Linked DNA regions of Homo sapiens. The protein of the gene in region 1 purifies or fractionates together with the protein of each later gene. This does not show direct contact. Each region holds a gene or a part of one and is shown in the gene's direction. Other genes may lie near its edges.

The links.
Region 2: the proteins of STMN1 (region 1) and TPM2 fractionate together in Homo sapiens (co-fractionation; 2 studies listed by BioGRID). This does not show direct contact.
Region 3: the proteins of STMN1 (region 1) and TPM3 purify together in Homo sapiens (affinity purification with mass spectrometry; 2 studies listed by BioGRID, with this or other methods). This does not show direct contact.

Annotation. Positions count from the first base shown.
Region 1 is NC_000001.11:25,903,344-25,910,864, reverse strand, and holds the start of STMN1 (stathmin), read left to right. Parts: upstream 1-4,445; 5' UTR 4,446-4,476; exon of another isoform or gene 4,477-4,503; intron 4,504-4,819; exon of another isoform or gene 4,820-5,013; intron 5,014-6,126; 5' UTR 6,127-6,188; coding exon 6,189-6,201; intron 6,202-7,051; coding exon 7,052-7,224; intron 7,225-7,521. UniProt on the Homo sapiens protein: Involved in the regulation of the microtubule (MT) filament system by destabilizing microtubules. Prevents assembly and promotes disassembly of microtubules. Phosphorylation at Ser-16 may be required for axon formation during neurogenesis.
Region 2 is NC_000009.12:35,686,730-35,694,552, reverse strand, and holds the start of TPM2 (tropomyosin beta chain), read left to right. Parts: upstream 1-4,627; 5' UTR 4,628-4,735; coding exon 4,736-4,849; intron 4,850-5,281; coding exon 5,282-5,407; intron 5,408-7,823. UniProt on the Homo sapiens protein: Binds to actin filaments in muscle and non-muscle cells. Plays a central role, in association with the troponin complex, in the calcium dependent regulation of vertebrate striated muscle contraction.
Region 3 is NC_000001.11:154,181,905-154,189,100, reverse strand, and holds part of TPM3 (tropomyosin alpha-3 chain), read left to right. Parts: intron 1-1,658; exon of another isoform or gene 1,659-1,843; intron 1,844-5,882; exon of another isoform or gene 5,883-5,981; coding exon of another isoform or gene 5,982-6,113; intron 6,114-7,196. UniProt on the Homo sapiens protein: Binds to actin filaments in muscle and non-muscle cells. Plays a central role, in association with the troponin complex, in the calcium dependent regulation of vertebrate striated muscle contraction.

The DNA of each region.
Region 1 (7,521 bases):
TGATTTGTTTCTGCCCCACCTTAACTGATCAATGTACTTTGTAATCTCCCCCACCCTTAAGAAGGTTCTTTATAATGTCACCCACCCTTAAGAAGTTTCTTTGTAATTCTCCCCACCCTTGAGAATGTACTTTGTGAGATCCATCCCCTGCCCCCAAAACATTGCTCTTAACTCTACTGCCTATCCCAAAACCTATAAGAACCAATGATAATCCCACCACCCTTTGCTGACTCTCTTTTCGGACTCAGCCCGCCTGCATCCAGGTGAAATAAACAGCCTTGTTGCTCAAAAAAATAAAAATAAAAATAAAAATAAAAAATAAAGTGTTAAATGAATTGAATTTAACCCCATGGGAAGAGTTAACCCAGTAACTACAATTTCCATCAAAGGGTGAAAGTCTAATAGTCATTCACTCATTCAATAACCTATAGCAGGCCAGGCACCGCGGCTCACGCCTGTAATCCCTGCACTTTGGGAGGCCGAGGCAGGTGGATCACCTGAGGTCAGGAGTTTGAGACCAGCCTGATCAACGTGATGAAACCCCATCTCTACTAAAAATACAAAAAATTAGCTGGGCATGGTGGCGCACACCTGTAATCCCAGCTACTCAGGAGGCTGAGGCGGGAGAATCGCTTGAACCTGGGAGGCGGAGGTTGCAGTGAGCTGAGATTGCACCACTGCACTGCAGCCTGGGCAACAAAAGCAAAACTCCGTCTCAAAAAATAAAAATAAAATAATCTATAGCAATCAGGAAACATCTCTAGCAATGATACCTAACAAGTGCACAGCACTTTAAATGTGCCAGGCATTGTGCTGTTTTCATTTACATTATTTCATTTAATCCTCACCACTCCCAGAGTGCAAGTGTCTAATATCACAGAAGAGACAGAAGATCACAGAAGGATGAGAGAGGTTGTTCTTTTTTTTTTTTTTTGTGAGACGGAGTCTTGCTGTGTCGCCCAGGCTGGAAGGCAGTGGCGTGAACTCGGCTCACTGCAACCTCCACCTCCCAGGTTCATGCCATTCTCCTGCCTCAGCCTCGTGCGTAGCTGGGACTACAGGCGCCCGCCACCATGCCTGGCTAATTTTTTGTATTTTTAGTAGAGACGGGGTTTCATCGTGTTAGCCAGGATGGTCTCGATCTCCTGACCTTGTGATCCGCCTGCCTCAGCCTCCCAAAGTGCTGGGATTAGAGGTGTGAGCCAGCGTGCCCGGCCAAGAGGTTGTTCTTTCCCAAAGTTCTCTGCAAACATTCAGGCGCCATCATCCTGGGCCAGGCCTGAGGATGGGCACTGCACTAGGGATACCAAGACAAAGACAGCACCCTGCCCTCTAGGACCTAATGGTCTAGTGAGGGAGATCGATGTGTAAAACAGCAGACTCATAGACAGGTTTTGAATAGAGAAGGGAGTGTTAGAGCATAGTGCTTGAGGATTAGGAGACAAAGGGAACAGAGAGACCGGGGACAACAAGCAAACCTCTCCCACGACACCCTTTGGCCGAGGACAGGCCTCGAAAGCAGCTGTGGAACTTGGAGGCGCCATGTGGGAGACAAACCCTGCAGCCTCAAGCCCAACAATGAACAAAGGCTGCCGGGCTCTCTGGCAGGAGAGGAGATCTGACAACGGCCTGGCCCGCCGTTTGATCAGTGTAGACATTCCTTCTAGACTTTGAAGCCTGAAGTGCTCTCCTTTAGCTGTCTACACAGATCAAATAAGCTGGATGACTGCCCTATCTCCACTTCGTTGTGTGGCTCCATAGTCACAGCCAGCTCCATAACAATCCAACCAAACCATCTGAGCAGAAGCAAAAATAATTCTTATGGGCAAAGATAGACAGTTCCAAGATGTGAACATTAACTCCTTGCTGCCACTTCAGAAGAGAGTGGATCTTGAAGTTCGTTTTAGGAAGCTTTCGAGAAGGGCGATTCTGCCCCTCTCCAAGGTGAAGTGGCAAAACTGTTGTCTCTCCTTACAGTTGAAAGCCCTTCCTATTCCAAGGCTTATATAGGACACCCACAAAAGCTGACAATAATGAGCTGTGATCTGGCTCTTGGGAAGGCAGCCCCACCCTAAAGAACAAGGATCAGACTGGGTGTGGTGGCTCATGCCTGTAATCCCAGCACTTTGGGAGGCTGAGACAAGAGGATTGCTTGAACCCAGGAGTTCGAGGCCAACCTGGGCAACATAGTGAGACCCTGTCTCAATTTTTTTTAAGTCAAATAATAATAATAATAATAATAATAATAATAATAATAATAATAATAATAAAAGGACAGGAATCCCACCTCAAAAGCACCTTTTTATTCAAAGGCTCATTCTAGGGGAAACTTTAACCCAGCCCTCTCAGTCCTCAAGCAGCTGTGAGGAGCTTGGAACATTGTCACAGACTGGCAGAACCAGGCATCTCCCAACAAACCCAGAAGCCAAGTGGCATTGCTAAAAAAGATTAAAAATGAACATGAGTTCTAACATCTACGTTCCTTGCTATGGTTTCCATGGAAATAGACATCTGCTCTAGGGAGAAAGAAAATGTGGGGGGAAGCAGTGTAAGTGCTTTCAAATTATCAGTGTTTTGAAAGATTTATTTCTTTTTTCTGTCACAACATTAATAGTCAGGAATGTGAGACTTTTGTGTGGCAATTTATTGTACTTAAAAAAATGCATTAAATGAGTGGGACCTTCCTCTGTGAACCTCCAGATCAAATACAAAGACTTCAAGATAAAAAGCCTGTTCAGTGGGTAAGGACCTCTTGGGCTTGGGTTCCTTGCTCATTTGTGTTGCCTGCCTATCTGTCGCTTTCCTGAGGGGTCTCATGCCCATCCTTCTCCAACTTTTCTAATGATGTCTGAGATTCTGTTCAGAAAAATGACAGACGGAAGCACCTAGCCATTTTGAAGCTAAGTTTGGTCTGAGAAGAAGCCTTTCAAGGCTCAGTATCTGAATTATTCCTGGTCCTGCTCACAGGCTAAGTGAAAACCACTTCGATTGGCTTGGGGGGGAGGCCGACCCCACACAAGGGCGATTGTTGGAAAAAATGCCGCAACAAGCATATTTCAGGCAACAGCGCATTGCTAATTGTTTGCTTTGTGTAGTGTGCTGCTGCTTGTATGATCCAGTTTTTATTGTCTTGGGCACCCCTTAGTTGTATTTTATCTCTGGCACATCCCTGGTGACTAACTAGGCATGAGAGTCTTTCTAAATTAGGACTGTTGTTTCAGGAAGGTTGGTCACATTTGTTTCTTGATTTGGGGAGATGCAGCTCATTAATAAAATAAAGATATCTCTTCTGCTTAGTCAAGATCTCAAAGCAGGTGTCTTGGTGTATTGACCACCAACCGAGGACACGGTCTTGGTCAGAGAATGGGAGGAGGCGGGGACCATGTTCATTTCATTTATTTTTTTCCCCTTTTTGTGAGAGAAAGGGCCAGTTATTCTAAGGCACGGTCAGACCAATTTCCTTTGTGCCTTTGCTGAGGTTCTGAGCTATCCAGGTCAGGGAGAACAGTGACCTTGTGGCTCCTTTTTCGATTTTTAAAAAGAACCCAGTGCTGCTCTGGGGAGCACGTGCTCTGAGAACAAAAGCAACACTTAACTGCAATCTGTGTAGTCTAGAACGGCTATTGCTCTTCCTCCCCTATCATCCGCAGAAGGCTTGGAAGAACAGATGGAGTCTGCATTTAAGCTGAGTGGCTTTGTTAGACCAAAGGCGATCAAATTCCAGAGCCCCACGCTTTCCCGCACAGGTCCCTGGTCACCGGCTCGGGAACCTGAGGATGCTGGCAAGAACGCACACAGTGAGGGAAGGGCCACGCCCGCGACCTGTGGGCTGAGTGGATTAGAAATTACGATGATGTCACAATATGGGTGACACGCCGGTGTCGGTGTAGGGTGCCGGGGGCAGGGGGCCCTGCAGGGGCGTGGAGTGGCATTGTGCTGTCACAGGGGCTCGGGCGTCTTAGGCACCCATGTGGGTGGCGCACTAGAAGGGGCACTGCTCTGTCCGAGTGCTGCCCTTGGGGCGAGGCGGGCATGTGGCTCTACAAGGTGGAGTCCAGGCGGCCAAAGTTTGGAAAGGTAGGGAAGGACCCCCCCGCCCTCCGCCTGCTCCGCCCTGCCCTTGTTCTCGAGAATGGGGAGCTGGTTCGGACCTAGTCCGGGGTCCACTGCCACGCCCTCTTCCACGGCGAGACCACCCCCCTAGTCCCAGGCCCACACCTGGGGATGCTCCCCAGGCGCCCTGCAACCCCCGGCATTGTCCTCCTGCCCTCCGGGACAGGACTACACTTCCCGAGGTGCTTCGGGGTCCCGGGGGGCGGCGCTCCACGCGGGTTGTGGGGGGCGGGGGCGGCACGTGCCGCCGCTCTCGGCCAATGCGGAGCCCCGCGCGGAGGTCACGTGCCTCTGTTTGGCGCTTTTGTGCGCGCCCGGGTCTGTTGGTGCTCAGAGTGTGGTCAGGCGGCTCGGACTGAGCAGGTGGGTGCGGGGCTCGGAGGAGGCGGCGGCTGGCTGAGGCCAGCAAGAGGGACGCGGTCGGCGGGAGGGGCTGGGCCGTGGCAGCGACCCCCTGCTGCAGGGCGGCGGGCGGGGCTGCGGGCCTCGGAGGGGTTGGTGGGCGGGGGTCGCTCCGCTTTGTGTGTGGCTCGGGCGGAGCCTCGCCTTTGTCCCCGCTCTCCGGGGGCGCGGCTGTTCGTGGGCAGGGGGCTGGGCGATCACCGGGCGTCCGCTCCGGGGTGCCGTCGAGGAGACAATAGGGGGCGTGGGCCCTCGTTTACCTCCCTCCCTCCCTCCCTTCCCTGCGGGCCCCGCCGGGTTCCCCATTGTCTGAAGGGACGGGGCGGTGCCCCAGGGACCAGCGGCTTTAGGACCAAACTGCGGGCAGCCAGGGCCGCGACCCTCCCTGCGACCGTCCCCTGGCGACCGCAGCTGGTGATTGAGGGGCGGCGCTCCCGGGCCCCACGAGGGTTCTTCTGTCTTCGCGGCCGGACGCGCGGACAGCGTGGGTGGCGGCAGGTTGGGCATGGGGACGGCGGGAGGCGGTGGCGAGCTCACCGCGGGACCACCCGGGGGCCTGTTCCCGGGGCCTGCCCCACCCGCTGAACTGTGAAGGGGGTGGTGGCGGCGGCCTGGAGGTGTTTTTGGCGGGAGTTGGGGGGGGCGTCCGCGCAGGGGGAGTCAGGCAGGGGCGGAGTTACCCGGATTGGACCGTTAGCCCCGCCCACCCCTCCCCTTCCCACGCGCGCGGGCTCCGGGGTGTTGAGTTCGGGGAGATTCGAAAAGGCGCGGGGAGGAAGGGGGCGGGGCCAGGGGCCGGAGCGCAAGGCGTGCTCTGATTGGCCGGGGGCGACCGGTCCTCTTTTCCTCGCCCGGACCAGGGCCACGCCCATCCTGGGTCCGGTGCTGCGTCTAATTCTCTGCTTTTCTTAAATCTTGTCGCTGCCTCTGATTTTAATTCCTAGCTTTTGGGAACCTGTCATCCTACGTTTTTGGTACTAGCTGGCGTCTACAAAAGTCATAATGTTAAAAAGATCAACAAGAGATACAGCATTTTTCATGACATAACGGCAGCAAATATAAGTCAAAATCTAGAGGTTCATAAACATTTTGCTTGCTGTTGGGCAAGGAAGCTTAAACCTGAGGGACAATAGGAGTTCAACATTATTGGTTACTATTAGCTTGGGCGTTTTCTTATCCACCACGTCAGACACAGACAAAGCAGGGGTGGGTATTTCATTTGCACAATGAGTTGTAGGCAGTATTAAGATGGCTCCGGGGGCACTGTTGAGTTGAATCTGGAATATCTTCTTACAGTTTCGGTGAAATGTTAAAGAGTTTATGGGGGAAAAATTCTTCACCCTTGTGACTTTGTCTGATTTTAAAAATCCAAGAGTTTTATGACCGAGAAAGCTCAGTTAACTTGATTTTCTGGAACCAATATCATATTCAGGTCATATTTCCCAATGTTTATTTAGTAGATTTTGATAATTTTTTTCGTGGTTAATTTAGACGTCTTTATTCCACGTATTTTTCTGACGATGTATGTAGATGTGATGTGAGATTTTTTTGGGTTGATGACATATAGAAAGGCAAAGAAAGTGATTGCATGTTTTTGAAAATCATTTTCAGGACTTTCCTTATCCCAGTTGATTGTGCAGAATACACTGCCTGTCGCTTGTCTTCTATTCACCATGGCTTCTTCTGGTAGGTAATCTATTTGGAAAATCTGAAATTGTAATGGGCTTATGATTTTAGATTGAGATGGCTCAGGTCTTCGCCTTTGATTTGGCACTTATGTTTTGGTCTTACCAAAACCTATTTTATGAATAGGAGAAGAATTTAAAAATGATTATCACTTGAATGTGCCGAGAGCTCGTAATTGTTTATTGGACAGTTTGGCTTAGTCTGAAGCAAAATTGTGGAGTTTGCACAAGTCTTTTGTTTATGAAAGCGATTGTCAGATACTGATGTCTCAAAACAGTATTTATTAATCCAAAAATGTTGAGCTTTGTTTTTCTGGGAGATGGTTTTTATTTTTTTTGAGACAGGGTCTCACCTTGTTGCCCAGGCTGGAGTGCAGTGGCTTAATTATAGCTCATTGCAGCCTTGACTTCTGGAGCTCAAGTGGGCTCAAGCGATTCTCCCACCTCAGCCTCCATAGCATCTGGGACTATCGACATGGGCCACCACACCCACCTAATCAAAAAAAATTTTTTTTGTAGAGATGGGCTTTCCCTTTGTTGCCCAGGCTGGTCTCAAACTTCAGGGCTCAAGGGATCTTCCCATGTTGGCCTCCCACGGTGCTGGGATTATAGGCATGAGCCATGGTACCTGGCCTTGGGAAATGGTATTTAGATAATAATATCTTGCCTGCAAATACATCTTCCCCTAGTGTCAGTAGACTGATAGGAATAAAAAGGGGAAAAAAAACACAACTTTCCTCATCAGCCCTAGTTTAATACATTAAATTGATTTGGGTTTTAGAAAATTATAGTACAGTTTATTAGAACAGGAGAATCCTGGTTTTCTGAATTATAAATATAATCAATTCTAGATATCCAGGTGAAAGAACTGGAGAAGCGTGCCTCAGGCCAGGCTTTTGAGCTGATTCTCAGCCCTCGGTCAAAAGAATCTGTTCCAGAATTCCCCCTTTCCCCTCCAAAGAAGAAGGATCTTTCCCTGGAGGAAATTCAGAAGAAATTAGAAGCTGCAGAAGAAAGACGCAAGGTAAACGAAGCAATTCACAGAAAGCAGGATATTAATTTATGTAATGGGCAGATCAATTTTATTTCTATAACAGGAAGAAAACAGAATTGTAGCTACACTGTGATTATTACATATGCCAGTGACTGGAAGGAAATACCAGTCCTCATTTATTGAACTCCTGTTACATGCCCGCTCCTTTGTTTATATTTTTCTCCTTTAATACATGGTGTTGCCTCAAATAATGGAAATTAGAAACAGTTTCAGGAATGTTAAGTCGTTTTTCTGCAGTCATACAACTAGTAAGTGTTGGGGTCAGAA
Region 2 (7,823 bases), on another chromosome or scaffold:
CAGGCAATCCACCCACCTCGGCCTCCCAAAGTGCTGGGATTACAGGTATGAGCCACCGCACCTGGCCTGAAACCTATTGTGATTTTTAAAATAATGTATAATGAAACATTAATATTTGGAAGATTTGCATAGCTCAGTGAATCAATTATTTTCCATATGACGAATGCACGGTGTTACAAAATTATGCATGGGTAAAAGATCCAATCAGGTGCAGTTCAGAAAAACGGATTTTTTTTTTTTTTTTGAGACAGAGTCTTGCTCTGTCACCCAAGCTGGAGTGCAGTGGTGCAATCTCGGCTAACTGCAACCTTCGCCTCGCAGGTTCAAGTGATTCCCCTGCCTCAGCCTCCCGAGTGGCTGGGATTACAGGCGTGTGCCACCACCACACCTGACTAATTTTTGTAGTTTTAGTAGAGACGGGAGGGTTTCACCATGTTGGCCAGGCTGGTCTCGAACTCCTGACCTCAGGTGATCCACCCACCTTGGCGTCACAAAGTGCTGGGATTACAGGCGTGAGCCACCACACTTGGCCAAAACAACGGATTTTAGTTTAACAGTACAAAAAGGTCACTGATATGGTTTCACATTCTACATTGCAACTGCCCCTTAAGAAACTGCCAATTATCGGCCAGGCACAGTGGCTCAGGCCTGTAATTCCAGCACTTTGGGAGGCTGAGGCAGGAGGGTAGCTTGAGCCTAGGAGTTTGAGACCAACCTAGGCAACATAGTGGCACACCATCTCTATTTAAAAAAAAAAAAAAAAGGGCCGGGTATGATGGTGCACATGTGTAGTCCCAGCTACTGGAGGAGACTGAGGCGGAGAGAGCACTTGAGCCCAGAAGGTCAAGGCTGCAGTGAGCCAAGCCGTGATTGTGTCTCTGCACTACAGCCTGGGTGACAGAGCCAGACCTTGTCTCAAAAAAACATAAATATGCCAGGCCCGGCATGGTGGCTCACGCCTGTAATCCCAGCACTTTGGGAGGCCAAGGCAGGCAGATTATCTGAGTTCAGGAGTTCAAGACCAGCCTAGCTAACACAGTGAAACCCCGTCTCTACTAAAAATATAAAAAGTTATCTGGGCATGGTGGCGGGCGCCTATAGTTCCAGCTACTTGGGAGGCTGAGGCAGGAGAATGGCGTGAACCTGGGAGGCGGAGGTTGCAGTGAGCCGAGATTGTGCCACTGCACTCCAGCCTGGGCAACAGAGCGAGACTCCGTCTCAAAAAAACAAAACAAACAAACAAAAAATACAACAGTTAGCTGGGTGTGATGGCTTATGCCTGTAGTCCCAGCTACTCGGGAGGCTGAGGCGGGAGAATCACTTGAACCTGGGAGGCGGAGGTTGCAGTTAGCTGAGATCGCCCCACTGCACTCCAGCCTGGGTGACAGCGCGAGACTCTGTCTCAAAAAAATAAACAAATAATAATAATAATAAATAGGCCAGGCGTGGTGGTTCACGCCTGTAAGCCCAGCACTTTGGGAGGCCAAGGCAGGCGGATCACTTGAGGTCAGGAGTTCGAGACCAGCCTGGCCAACATGGTGAAACCCTGTCTCTACTGAAAATACAAAAATTAGTCAGGCATGGTGGTGCATGCCTGTAGTCCCAGCTACTCAGGAGGCTGAGACAGGAGAATTGCTTGAACCTGGGAAGCGGAGGTTGCAGTGAGCCAAGATCGCACCACCGCACTCCAGCCTGGGCAACAGAGCAAGACTGTTTCAAAATAAATAAATAAAATAATAAATAAATCTTTCCAACTGCATATCTGTTGTGAGACAGGATTTTCTTCATATGTCTCAGTAACCAACATATAGCAACAGATCAAATATGGAAGGAGATATTGATAATACAGCTGTCCCCTTGGAAGCCAGAGAGTAAAGAGATTCGTAAAAATGTAAAATAATTTCCATACTCTCATTAATTCGGGGAATGGGAATATAGTTATCTTTCATTTAGAACATTATGTTAACATGATTAATGTGTAATGAGTTTATTTTTGTTATTTTTAACGAATTGATACATATTTAAAATTTTTCTCAAGTTTCATTTTAATATGGCAACTATTGGTAGATATAACCCACTTCAACAAAAAAGCTGTTTGGGGGTCTTCAATACTTTTTAAGAGTGTAATGGGTTCTAAGACCAAAAGACCCACACCGTATTAGTATATTTGATAAGTACCCAGAAACTGGTACATAAAAAACTCATCTGGCAAATGTTCATGAAGTGCCAACTCTATGCCTGGTGCTGTGATAGGCCTTGGGGATTCAGAATTGAGAACAGTCGTTTCTGTTGAGGACTCACAGACCGGCGGAGGCGCCAAACCGGTATAAGAACAGTTATACCATGGGACTAGGATGAGGGTGAGAGCCCGCACCAAGAACACGCACCTATTAGGTGAGGCGGTGGGAAGAGAAGTGGCCAGGGAAGGCTTCCCAGAAAAGCTGACACTTACTGAGTCTTAAAGGCCACCAGGAATCAGCCAAGGGGATGGGCATTTTAGGGAGAGAGAACAGAATGCATAAACTGTGGAAGCTTTAAGAAAAGTATGGCTATTTCCAGCTCCTGCACGTAGCTCATTATGAATGCAGCATGAGGTACAAGTATGAATACTGGGGGTGAGGTTGGGCATGGAAGGAGATGAGGCCAGAGAGGCAGGCAACAGCCAAAACAACGGGCCTTCTATACCATATTAAGAAATGTGGATTTTTTTTTTCTCCTCAAAACAGGCAGGGTGCCCGCACGCCTGTAATCCCAGCTACTCAGGAGGCTGAGTCGGGAGGATCACTTAAGCCCATAAGTTCAAGACCAGCCTGGGCAATCTAGCAAGCTCCCGTCTCAAAAAAGGTGGGGGGACAGGGATTAGGGAGGGGTTTTGGAGAATTTTAGATAATATTCGCATTAACTTTTAAAAAGATATTTGACAACAATGTCATGGGACAGTCAAATGAATGAATGAGTTGAGGAACTAGAAGTAAGACTACAAAACAGACTGAAGAAAACATAAGGCGCGGCCAGAGGCCAGCCCAGACCGACCCGAGGAGGAACCTCCTTGGTAGAAGGCAGCCTCTCCAGGATTAGGTGGTTGTGAGACGCGAAGGGCAGGGGATACCCAGTGGTCTAGCATAGGCTACTGGTGGATGAGGCGTCTTCCACGGAGTTAGAGGAACACTGCGAGGTCAGGCCAGGGTTGCTCTCCGTGTGGCTAGCAGGCAGCTAAACAGATCTGAATGCATTTCCACGCCACCTCCCCACCGCCCCGGCCAGCGGCCTCGGGTTCCCACGGTCCCCAGCCCACTGCAAAATCCAGGCCTCCCGCCCCTCTATGACTGGAGGGTGGGGGCGAGGCTAGCAGCTCCCTCCCGGCTTCCTCCGCTTGTTCTCTCCTCCCCTTCCCCCTCCTCCCGGCGGCTCTCCACTTCCTTTCCCCCCACCCCACCCCAGGGAAAAACGAAAACAAACACCCTCGCGCCTCGCGCCTCCGACTCCCAGACCCCACGACCCGGCTCCGGCGCTGGTTTGGCGGCCTGGGTGGGAGAAGGCACCTCGCCCCGGACCCCCTATGCCCCGCAGCTCAGTGACTCTTCCCCTCGCCCTCCGCCTTCCCCGCCGCAGCCCGGCTCCGCCTCCCAATGGGGAAACATCCCAAAAAAGGGCAGAAAAGAAATTTCAGCATAAAGTTGGCCCACTGGGAAAGAGAGGAGCGTCCGCGGGGAGCGGGGGAGAAGAGGGAAGGCGCGCGGAGGGGAGTGGGGCCAGGCGGAGCCAGGGGCGGGGAGCGGAGGGGCTCGGGACGCGTCCGGGTGGGAGCGGGGGCGGGGAACGCGCGGTGACCAGCCTGGCCGCAGCCGCGTGGAAAATATGCGGGGCACGTGGGGGGCGGGGCGGGGAGCTGGGTCCTGAGCCGCCGGGTGCTCGCAGGAAGGGCCTGGCTCCAGGGGCAGGGGCTGGGAGGGGAGGCGAGGGGATGAGAGGTCAGGCCGGTCCTGGGGGCAGCAAGCCCGGCCACACTCCCCACCGCGACCGGGGCTCTGGGCTCGCTTCCTGCTTCAGTTTCCCCAAGCTCCCGATGAGACTCCGCTACTACCACCACGTCGATAACGCAAACCTAGAGGGACTCAGGGTAAACTGAGGCACTCAAACTGCCGAGGAGCTCCGCCTCCCGAGAGACATTTAATCCGGGGGGATTTGCAGGAAACTTCTAAATTAAGGGTAGCGGCTGCTGCAGCTGAGGGGGGGCACGCCGGTCCCTGCGCCCGGGCAGCTGCCGTGAGCTCACGCCCCGAAATAGCCCCAGGGGCCCCAGCCGCAGCTGCCACTGGGTCCGGCTGTCACTCAGAGGAAGCACGGAGCCCCCAGCCCAAGGGTCCCCTCCCCTTCGCATCGCCGGGGTTTTTCCAGCCGACCGTCGGCCACTTTTTCCTCCGACGGCTGGCAGGGAAGAGGGGGATGGGGGCGGGACCCCAAGGGAGGCGGTCCCCAGTGGGTGGGCGAAGGGGGCGGCCGCACCCCCCGGCCGGGCCGTGCTTCTGCCCCTACAAGGTTTGGGCCGAGGTGGGGGAGGGTCCTGGTTGCCGGCCCCGCCCGGTCCCTCCCCGCCTTTTAGGCGCCCGCGTGGCCGGGACGTCCCAGTCCCGCTCCGTCCTCCTCGCCTGCCACCGGTGCACCCAGTCCGCTCACCCAGCCCAGTCCGTCCGGTCCTCACCGCCTGCCGGCCGGCCCACCCCCCACCGCAGCCATGGACGCCATCAAGAAGAAGATGCAGATGCTGAAGCTGGACAAGGAGAACGCCATCGACCGCGCCGAGCAGGCCGAAGCCGACAAGAAGCAAGCTGAGGACCGCTGCAAGCAGGTTAGGGCCGGGCCCAGTGCAGCCTGCTCTCCCCGCGCCTAGGGCAAGGGTGGGCCGCTGCCATGGGTCCCCCAGCCCCGGGCCTGCCCGCCAAGGCTCTCTCTCACCCAGGGTGGGGGCTGGGCCTTCGCAGTACCCTCAGGGCCTTCGCCAGAGCCGCTTCTCTCCCCTACAATAGCCTGGGGAAGCCCCAGGCCCCTGGTTTCCACTCTGCCTTTGCAGAGCGCGGTTGGTCCTGCTCCTTGGGGCCTGAAGTTTTCTCTGTACCCTCAACGGGTCCCACCAGTACCCTTGACTGTACTGTCCCTTTTATGTTATTCCGCTTCCATCCCAGTAGCCTCCAAATCTTAGTAGCGCCCCTACACACACCGCGTCTCCATTCTGGGCCTGGGCCCCCTCCCAGCCTGGCTGACCAAGTCCCCTCTGTCCCAGCTGGAGGAGGAGCAGCAGGCCCTCCAGAAGAAGCTGAAGGGGACAGAGGATGAGGTGGAAAAGTATTCTGAATCCGTGAAGGAGGCCCAGGAGAAACTGGAGCAGGCCGAGAAGAAGGCCACTGATGTGAGTGTGGACTTGGGGGACAATGGGAGGAGTTAGGGCTCTGGGAAGGGGCCCCCCGGGTATGGGAATAAGAGGATTGGGGCACCTTATCCCCTTATGTCCCCAGCGCCAGGAGAGAAATGGTTTCATCTCAGTAACCAGGGCTAGGGTAAACTTACACAAGTAATCCAAGACAGTGGATAAATCAAAACCACCTACCACTTCCCCCAGAGGACTTAGCCCTGTAATTCTGTTTGGTTCCAGCTTTTAGAATGTACAGTGATCAAGCAATGAGTCATTGTGGGGGTGGAAGGTATAAGAATTTACCATCTACCTCAATTAATCCTCCAGCTGAAATTGGAGAGGAGACTGCAGCCGTTTGGGGATGGGGGGATGTGGATGTGAGGTACTAGCCTGCAGGAGGAGGGAGAGGGATCCAGAGATGAGACCCCACTTGAGTTACAACCCTAAGGGGCCATTAGAAATTCCCTGGCCTTGACCTCTGGCTTCAGCAGCCCTGCTGTGCCCTGGGGCCCCAGCTCAGGTTCTAATGGCTCCTCATTTACCCTCATTAAGCTGTCAGCCTGGAGACCATGCCAGGCCACAGGGCAGAGGGACAGGGCCACAAATGCCAAAGCAGCTACCTTGGCAGGTCATTTACCCTGAGATTTCTCTGCCCACCCCACAACCCCAACCAGACTTCACTTCCTGCCATTCCCAACCCCCAGCTTAAGGTAGGAGAATGGCCATATGGCTTTGGTGTGGTGGTAGTTTCCCCATTCTCTGCCTCAGTTTCCCCATCTTCCTTCCACCCAGGATTGTTTTAAGATGAACCTATGGTTAGATTAGCATAAAGCATGGTCTGAACATCAGAGATGACATAGCTGTTTGTGTCGACTGCTCATGTTCCCAGCCCCCCAGGGGTTGGGCTTCTGTGACCTCCAGCCTCCAGTTTTGGTTCTCCACCAGTCCTGGCACTTGGGAGGGAGCTGACCTGCAGCTGCTAGCACAGACAACCCTGGGCATCTGACACTCTATAAATAACCAAGGCCCAGTGCAGCTGGAGGCAAGATTGGAAACCCAAGTTGCTGGTGGGGGCTGGAGGGGCAGGGGGGACAGGGACAGAGCTGGGGAGGCAGAGCCGCAGCACCAGGAGCAGATAGGAAAGACTGCCCAAGCTTCCTGGTGACCTTGAACACAGCACTCAACTTACATGGTGCCTCAGTTTCTCCCTCTCTCTTGCTTCCCATTTTTCTAATGGGGACAGTAGTGCCTGTCCTGTGGTTAGAGAGCCGCCCCCGTAACTGGGAAGAGCTTGAGAGGCAGGAAATGGCACATATCAGTCCCATGATGAGGACCCCAGGACTTCCCAAACTTTCCAGAGTCTTTTGTCACCCCACCATCATGCAGAGTTTTTCTTTTACAGTCTCACCTCTCTCTAGGGTAGTACTCCAATGTCCCCCACAGTGATTCTTCCCAACCCCCAATGCTGTCCCCAGAATGCTTCCACACTGTCATCCGGCCCTGTGCCCATGATGGGCTCTTGTCACTCTAGGTGGCCAAGCTCCAGGTGCCTTCAGCACCTGGAAGACAAGCTACCATCTACTCTCTATATATGGTGCTGTTTCTCCTGCCCTACAGTCCGACCAAGGACCTGCTTCCTATGCTGTGTCCAAGTGCTGCCCCCAGCCCCTCCCCCCACCTCCTTTCCCTACACAGGTCCTCTCTCCTTTCCACTCTGAAATCTCAGGGTCTCTGTGTCCTTGTTTTTGACAGAGAAAGGGGATAACCTAATATTTATGGAATGTGGACCCTGTGCAGGCAATGTACTCAGTGCTTTCTGCATGTTATTTTACAATTTCCCAAACTTGGCTTATCATCAGAATCACTCGGGGGCTTTAAAAAAAAAAGAGAAGATTCCCAAGCCCCCGCCCTACACATCCCAATTCAGTGGATCTAGCATGGAGTAAGAGAACCTGTTTAGTTTTATGAGTCTCACCGAAGGTCCTGTTGATTAACTGAGTATTAAAAGCAGTGGATTATCTCAGAACAGCCTTAAGAAGGAGGAACTGTTATTGTTAACTCCAACTTGTGAAGGAGGAAACTGAAGCTTAGAGAGGCTAAATAAGTTGCCCACAGTTACACAGGTGTTGAGTGGCTGAGCCGTGGCTCAAAGACAATCTGACTCAGAGCCGATGCTCTTAACACGTGGCTGCCCTGCTCCTCTCATTTTCCTTTACTGGCGCTCGCCTTGCTCTGCCCTTTTTCTCAGTGTTTGACCAGTTTTTATGGATTTTTTCCAAAACCTCCATGGTTTTGCCTCCTACTGCAAGCCCAGGGGCTGAGTAGACATCCCTCACACTGCCCCTGCATTGCCCCCAGCTCTCTGCTGGCCTTGGCAGGGAGCCCCTTGCTACAGCCATGGGTATTCCTTATA
Region 3 (7,196 bases), about 130 Mb from region 1:
GAATGCAGTGGCAAGATCTCGACTCACTGCAACCTCCACCTCCCGGGTTCAAGTGATTCTCCTGCCTCAGTCTCCTGAGTAGCTGGGATTACAGGCAGCTGCCACCATGCCCGGGTAATTTTTTATATTTTTAGTAGAGACAGTGTTTCACCATGTTGGCCAGGCTGGTCTCCAACTCCTGACCTCAAGTGATCCACCCACCTTGGCCTCTCAAAATGCTGGGATTACAGATGTGAGCCACCATGCCTGGCCTCTGCCATTAGGTTTCTGATCTGTTTTGTTTTCCACCACTTTCAGTGGCCAAGGAAAGTGGTAAGAATTGAATATATTATGCCAGAGGTTAGAAACACAAACTAAATATACATCATTTAAACTCATTCTTCCAAAAGTTAAGGCCAGCACAGGCTTTTTTTTTTTTTTTTTTTTGAGACGGAGTCTTGCTGTGTCACCCAGGCTGGAGTGCAGTGGTACGATCTTGGCTCACTGCAAGCTCCGCCTCTTGGGTTCACGCCATTCTCCTGCCTCAGCCTCCTGAGTAGCTGGGACTACAGGTGCCCGCCACCGCGCCCGGCTAATTTTTTGTATTTTTAGTAGAGATGGGGTTTCACCGTGTTAGCCAGGATGGTCTCGATCTCCTCACCTTGTGATCCGCCCGCCACGGCCTCCCAAAGTGCTGGGATTACAGGTGTGAGCCACCGCGCCCGGCCAGGCCGCCACAAACTATTAATTCTCCCTTCTTGTGCCCAGTGTGGTGGCTCAGACCTGTAATTCCAGCACTTTGCTTTGAGAGGCCAGGGCAGGAGAATCGCCTGAGGCCAGGAGTTCAAGACCAGCCTGGGGAACATAGTGAGGCCCTATCTTTACAAAAAATTTAAAAATTAGCCAGGTGTGGTGGCATGTGCCGGTAGTCCCGCGTACTCCAGAGGCTGAGATGGGAGGATCGCTTGAAGCCAGGAGTTCATGCTTGCAGTGAGGTATGATAATGCTACTGCACTCCAGCCTAGGTGACAGAGCAAGACCCTGTCTCTATTTAAAATGATAAAAATTCTCCCTTCTCAGAAAACTCAAAAAAACAAAACAAAACAAACAAACAAACAACCCTACCAAATCTACAGGTTACCCCTGGGCTTTGGGCAAGTGGATGGCTGGCTGGAGTTGTATAGCCTAGGTTCCTGGTATATTTGGATGGATCTCTCTGTTTCTAACATATGGGCATGAAGATAGAAGTTTTCACAAACTAGCACAATGTCAGGTTAATAACAGTTTTGTGAGAAATTGGGTAACATCAATCTGGGTCTGCTCTTAGGCTGAAACGGCTAGTATGTGGGCTTGAGGAGGTGTTTCCAGGAGCAAGAAAAAGAACAAGTCTAACCTGAGATCATGAGAAGGAGAATAACATAGAGGCTGTACGCAATACATCAAAATCATTAGGAATATAAAAGGATTTCCTGGGGATGAATTCTGTCTATCTTAATCTGTTTTACACATGTACAGACATACACATACACACACATAGCACCCCTCACCTAGATGTGGTCTACTCAGTATATTCATTTGAAAGAAGTTTCTTCATATTTACATAGGAATCCACCAAAACCCATTTAAATATGTAAAGTGAGGGTTAAAAATACTCATTCAACCCCTCTCCCCTTTGTTAGCTTTCCCAAGTCAGAAAGTACCCTCAGAGATATGCATAAGAACAAGAAACAGGAGAGGGAAGGTTGTGGCCAGGAGCAAGCAAGAAGAAAGGTTTCTTTCCTCAAAGCTAGAGTCAGCAAACTACCACCTGTGGGTTAAATCTTGCAACAGCCTGGTTTTGTAAATAAAGTTTTATCGGAACACAGTCATGCTCATTCTTGTACATACTGTCTACTGGCTTTCTTATCTCTCTGGCCACAAGACCCTAAAAGTTGGATGACCCCTGCCTCAAAGGGTCAAAGAAGGACAGTGTTTATAGGAATTGGGAGAGGTGCTGAATAAGGACCAACAAGGTTAAAAGCAGAAAGCAAAGGTAAGAGTCATCAGCAGCATAATATATGCATCTTTGGAGGGAGTATACTCTGTCCAATACAAAGGAAGTTAACAGCTCAGCTTCTGTCCTTGAGGTTAATAAATAAGTAAACAGAGCATATTATCTTGAAGTAGATATAAGCAGTAGAGAAGGAGGAGGGAGTCAATAACTACGTGTTTACACAAGCAGTTCTGGTTATCTGAGAAGCCTTTCTGAAAAGTGCAGGATTTACTAGGACTGCTTGAATAAAGAAAGGGCAAGGGTATGGCAAGGCGAGTCCAAACTTTTTTTTCCTCCCTAAATTTGTCTAACTTTGTTTTCTAAGTTGTGGTAAAATACGCATACATAAAACTTACCATTTTAACCATTTTTAAATGTCTAATTCAGTAGTAGCATATTTACATTGTTGTGCAACCACATCTAAGATCATTTTAATCCAAGATGAAATCAGATGCTGTTTAGGGAGAAACAAAGGGAAAGAGGAGTGCATTGTTAGGACATAGAGTCATAACACCATTTTTTAGGGACAGGTGGCAGGAAGGATGGGGAGAGAAGGGACAACGATGGACATATACACCTGTTGATATATTGTATTGCTGGTTACTAGGAACACAATAGCACTGGGCCCCTTGCTGTCTATCCATTGTGCTTCTAAAGGCTATCATGAGTCAGTCCATCTGTTTGACTGCATTAAGAGGAGATTATCTGCTCAAATCTACCAGTCTCAGAAATGCAGTGGTGCTCTCAATACCCTCTTGGTTTGGCTAGGATGAGGTCTTCTGCTGCTTTACCAGGGCACAGGGAGGTACAATAGTGCCCCCTGCTGAGCAGCACCCAGATGACAAAGTGTCACTTCTGCCACATCTTGATCAGACTTCTACAAAGCAAGTTAGAAAAATTCTTAGGCCATCAGGGTAGAGTCTATTAAGAGTCAGAACCCTGATCTTCCTTCCTAATTTCTGGGGGAAAAATCAGTGTGCAGGTTACTCTATTGAGAAAATTATTATCTATCCAAGTTGTTTCTTCTGAATAGTCTCATTGCTCGGTATTTCCAAAAGGTGATAGGAAAACAGAGGCTCTGCAGGGAGCATTCTTAGAACTAGACATTGAGGGCAGCAACTGTCTTGCCTACTATTCCTTTCAGGGATTAGGACTCTTCATTGTAAGTCCTGTTCCACATCCTAATTTTCTAGGAGAAAAGAGAGCTGTCCCAGAAGAAAAATTTATCACGATTACCTACTGGGAAGGTGGGAGGAATACAAAGAAATAAGAGGGAAGATAACGTTCTCAAGTCTCTTTACTATTGTGCTTCCAGAAATCCTGCATGGCAGTGCCTGTAGGGAAAGTTTCTTTTTTTGTTGTTTTTCTTTTTTTTTTTTTCAGACTGTGTCTCACTCTGTCACCCAGGCTGGAGTGCAGTGGCGCGATCTCGGCTCACTGCAACTTCTGCCTTCTGGGTTCAAGCAATTCTCCTGCCTCAGCCTCCCGAGTGGCTGGGATTACAGGCGCCTGCTACTGCACCTGGCTAGTTTTTTGTTTGTTTGTTTGTTTGCTTGTTTTTGTGGTTTTTAGTAGAGACAGGGTTTCACCATCTTGGCCAGGCTGGTCTTGAACTCCTGACCTCGTGATCCACCTGCCTCAGCCTCCCAAAGTGCTGGGATTACAGGTGTGAGCCACTGCGCCTGGTCTGTTTTGCCATTTTTTTTTTTTTTTTTTTGATACAGAGTCTCACTCTGTCACCCGGGCTGGAGTAGAGTGGCACCATCTCAGCTCACTGCAACCTCTGCCTCCTGGATTTAAGCAATTCTCTTGCCTCAGCCTCCCTGAATAGCTGGAACTACAGGTGTGCACCACCACACCCGGCTAATTTTTGCATTTTTAGTAGAGACGGGGTTTTGCCATGTTGGCCAGGCTGGTCTCAAACTCCTGACCTCAGGTGATCTGCCCGCCGTGGCCTCCCAAAGTGCTGGGATTACAGGCATGAGCCACCACATCTGGCCAAAGGGAAGTTTCTAACTCATAAACAGTTCCTTGGGGGTACTTGGAAGTACAGTGGCATTGAAATTGGTAAAAGTTGTAACAGAATGGAGGCTCAATTCTATAGTACAGTTTACAGGCACTCATGTCTGGCTGTTGCATGAAGGATCTAGTAACAGTCGTCTGTTTTTTATTTTTTTGAGACAGGCTCTCAATCTGTCACCCAGACTGGAGGCAGTGATACAATCTTGGCTCACTGCAACCTCTGCCTTCCCGGCTCAAGAAATCTTCCCACCTCAGCCTCCCAAGTAGCTGGGACTACAGACGTGCTGCCACCAAGCCTGGCTAATTTTTTAATTGTTTGTAGAGACGAGGTCTCACTATACTGCCCAGGCTGGTCTCAAACTCTGGGCTGAAGTGATCTTCTCGCGTTGGCCTCCCAAATGTTGGGATCACAGGCATGAGTCACCCCGCCCGGCTGACAGTGGTCTGTAATAGAGGATTTCTTCCTGATAAAATGGGGGCATATCTTTCTTACCTACAAAAGGAATTGTAAGTGATTATTAAATTATTTATTTATTTTTAGAGATGAGGTCTTGCTATATTGCCCAGGCTGGTTTTGAACTCCTGGGCTCAAGCCATCCTCCCACCTCAGCCTCCCAAAATCCTAGACTTACAGACATGAGCTACCACGCCCAGCTGATGATTAAATTGCCAAGTCCTGAATCATTCCAAGGTTTGGAGGGGCTGGAAGGTTGGTTAATTTGGTGCATGATGACTCTCAAAAGTAACAGGGACCTGTAATCCCAGCACTTTGGGAGGCCGAGGCCGGCAGATCACGAGGTCAGGAGATCGAGACCATCCTGGCTAACACGGTGAAACCCCGTCTCTACTAAAACTACAAAAAAAAAATTAGCCGGGCGTGGTGGAGGGCGCTACTCGGGAGGCTGAGGCAGGAGAATCGCTTGAACCCGGGAGGCGGAGCTTACAGTGAGCCGAGTTCGCACCACTGCACTCCAACCTGGGCGACAGAGGAGACTCCGTCCCAAAAAATAAAAAACAAAACAAAAATAAATAAAATAACAGGGAGCCTGACGGGGTGGCGTGCACCTGTAGTCCCAGCTACACCGGAGGCTGAGGTAGGAGGCTCGCTTGAGCCCAGGAGTTCGAAGCTGTAGTGAGTTGTGATCTCGCCACTGCCGCACTCCAGCAACAGAGCGAGATCTTGTCTCTTAAAAAAAAAAAAAAAAAAAAAAAAAAGGAGAAAAGTCTGTTCTAAATAGAACACTTAAGTTCATACCATGCCAAATAGAATGAGAATTTGTGCCATCTTGCCCATCCCTTCCACTCCGACAGTTCCATTCATTGACTTCCAGGAGACGGGAGAGAGAACCTACCTACCTGAGCCGACTTTGAAAGGAGACTGAGTGGGGCTCTTTTGAACCTGAGGCCCAGAAAGTCTTTTAGACTTTTCTTATAACTTGGTTTTGGAGTTTGTCGTGGGGTGAGTGGAAGCAGAGACTTGTAGGATGTTTATATTGTGGAGCAAATACAGTGAGGGGTGACGGGTATCGGCATTGCGGGAGTGAGGGGTCAATTGCGGGAGTGTAAGGTCAGCCGACTACCTGCAAAGGGGCCAACCATTGTGGGCAGCCAGCCTGGCGGGAGAGGCTAGGGCACGAAGCGCCGCCCAGTTACCATGGTAACACTCCCTCGTCCCAACCCCGTCCCAGTTTACTGGCCCAAGGTAAGGCCGGGAGCCGTACTCCAGGGCGACTGGGAGGATCCACTCCCTGCCGCGGCTCTCCCTCCAGTGGACTGCCTTCCCGCCTGCCTGGCGGTGGGAGGGCGCGGCAGAGGGACGTCACATCCGGGCGGGTTGGTGAGTTCCGGTATTTCAGGGCGTAGCAGGCGGAAGTAAGGGTGAGAGGAGGCTGCAACGCCGAGCGGAGGAGGCAGGAACCGGAGCGCGAGCAGTAGCTGGGTGGGCACCATGGCTGGGATCACCACCATCGAGGCGGTGAAGCGCAAGATCCAGGTTCTGCAGCAGCAGGCAGATGATGCAGAGGAGCGAGCTGAGCGCCTCCAGCGAGAAGTTGAGGGAGAAAGGCGGGCCCGGGAACAGGTACGGAGATGGTGAGGCTCATGAGGGAGGGGCAGGCGCTGGAGTATCCGGCAAGCGGAATAAGGTCCCTTTTGCCGTGGAGCACGGTCCTCTGAAGGCCGGCGGGCTCGGAGATGAAGTTGGGATCTCGGAGGATGGGTGGGGCTCAGCACCAGTAGGACACCAAGCGGACGAGGGGGAAACAGTGCTCGGGCGAGCAGGCTTGACCTTTGAAGAAATTGAGCCTTACGGGGTTTGGGGTGTGGCTTTCCTCCTCTTTTTTTCTCCACCTCATTCATTCAGTGCCTCCGATCCGGGCGCGGCCGTGGGAGGGGCTCAGCGGCTTCTCCCTCCCCCACTTCCCCATGGAGGGTGGGAGAACTTTGCTCTGGCTTGAGGTTTCCTGCCCAAGGGGTAAGAGTGGGTGGGTGCTTCTCTGTTCGGGGAGGGGCAGTACTGAACCTTCTGTGAAATGGTGAGGGTTTTGGGGTGGGAACCGTCGGAAAGACCCCGGCCTGCCTGCTGGCAGCTTTTCCGCTCCCTCCTCCTGCTCAGGAAATGAGGCAGCAGTTGGCTGAGAGGAAGCGCGGTGCCCTCCCTCCCTGGAGGAGCTCGAGGCCACAGGACCGCCTCTCATCCTCTGGCCAGGGGCCCTTTCCTCTTACGGGGTGCTCTTGCAGCTGCTACACCCACTCTCTGAATCTACGTGAAACGGCAGGGGAGGGGATAGTACTTCTCTCAACGTTAGTGCAAATGTAGGAGCCAACCAAACTTGCCTGGCCCTACCCACAATGACCTGGAAGGCAGGAACTTCTGTCAGATTCAGGCCTTTATTGCTGAAGTGTGATCAGTGCAAGCCGAACTGGTTAAGAACATTTCTTCCGAGCAGAGCTGATAAGCGAGTGTATGGCAGAGAATCAGATGGTGTGCCAGTCTCAAGGTTTCTGATTGACTTGGGCAATTTGGTGGAGACAATAATGAATTCCAGGTGACTCTAGTGGAATATTTGTTCAACTGAAAGTGGAAACATAAAATGTTGGTGGAGTGAACAGTGATTCTAGTGATTTCTTTCTTCCTTTCTTTTTTTTGAGACAGAGTCTCACT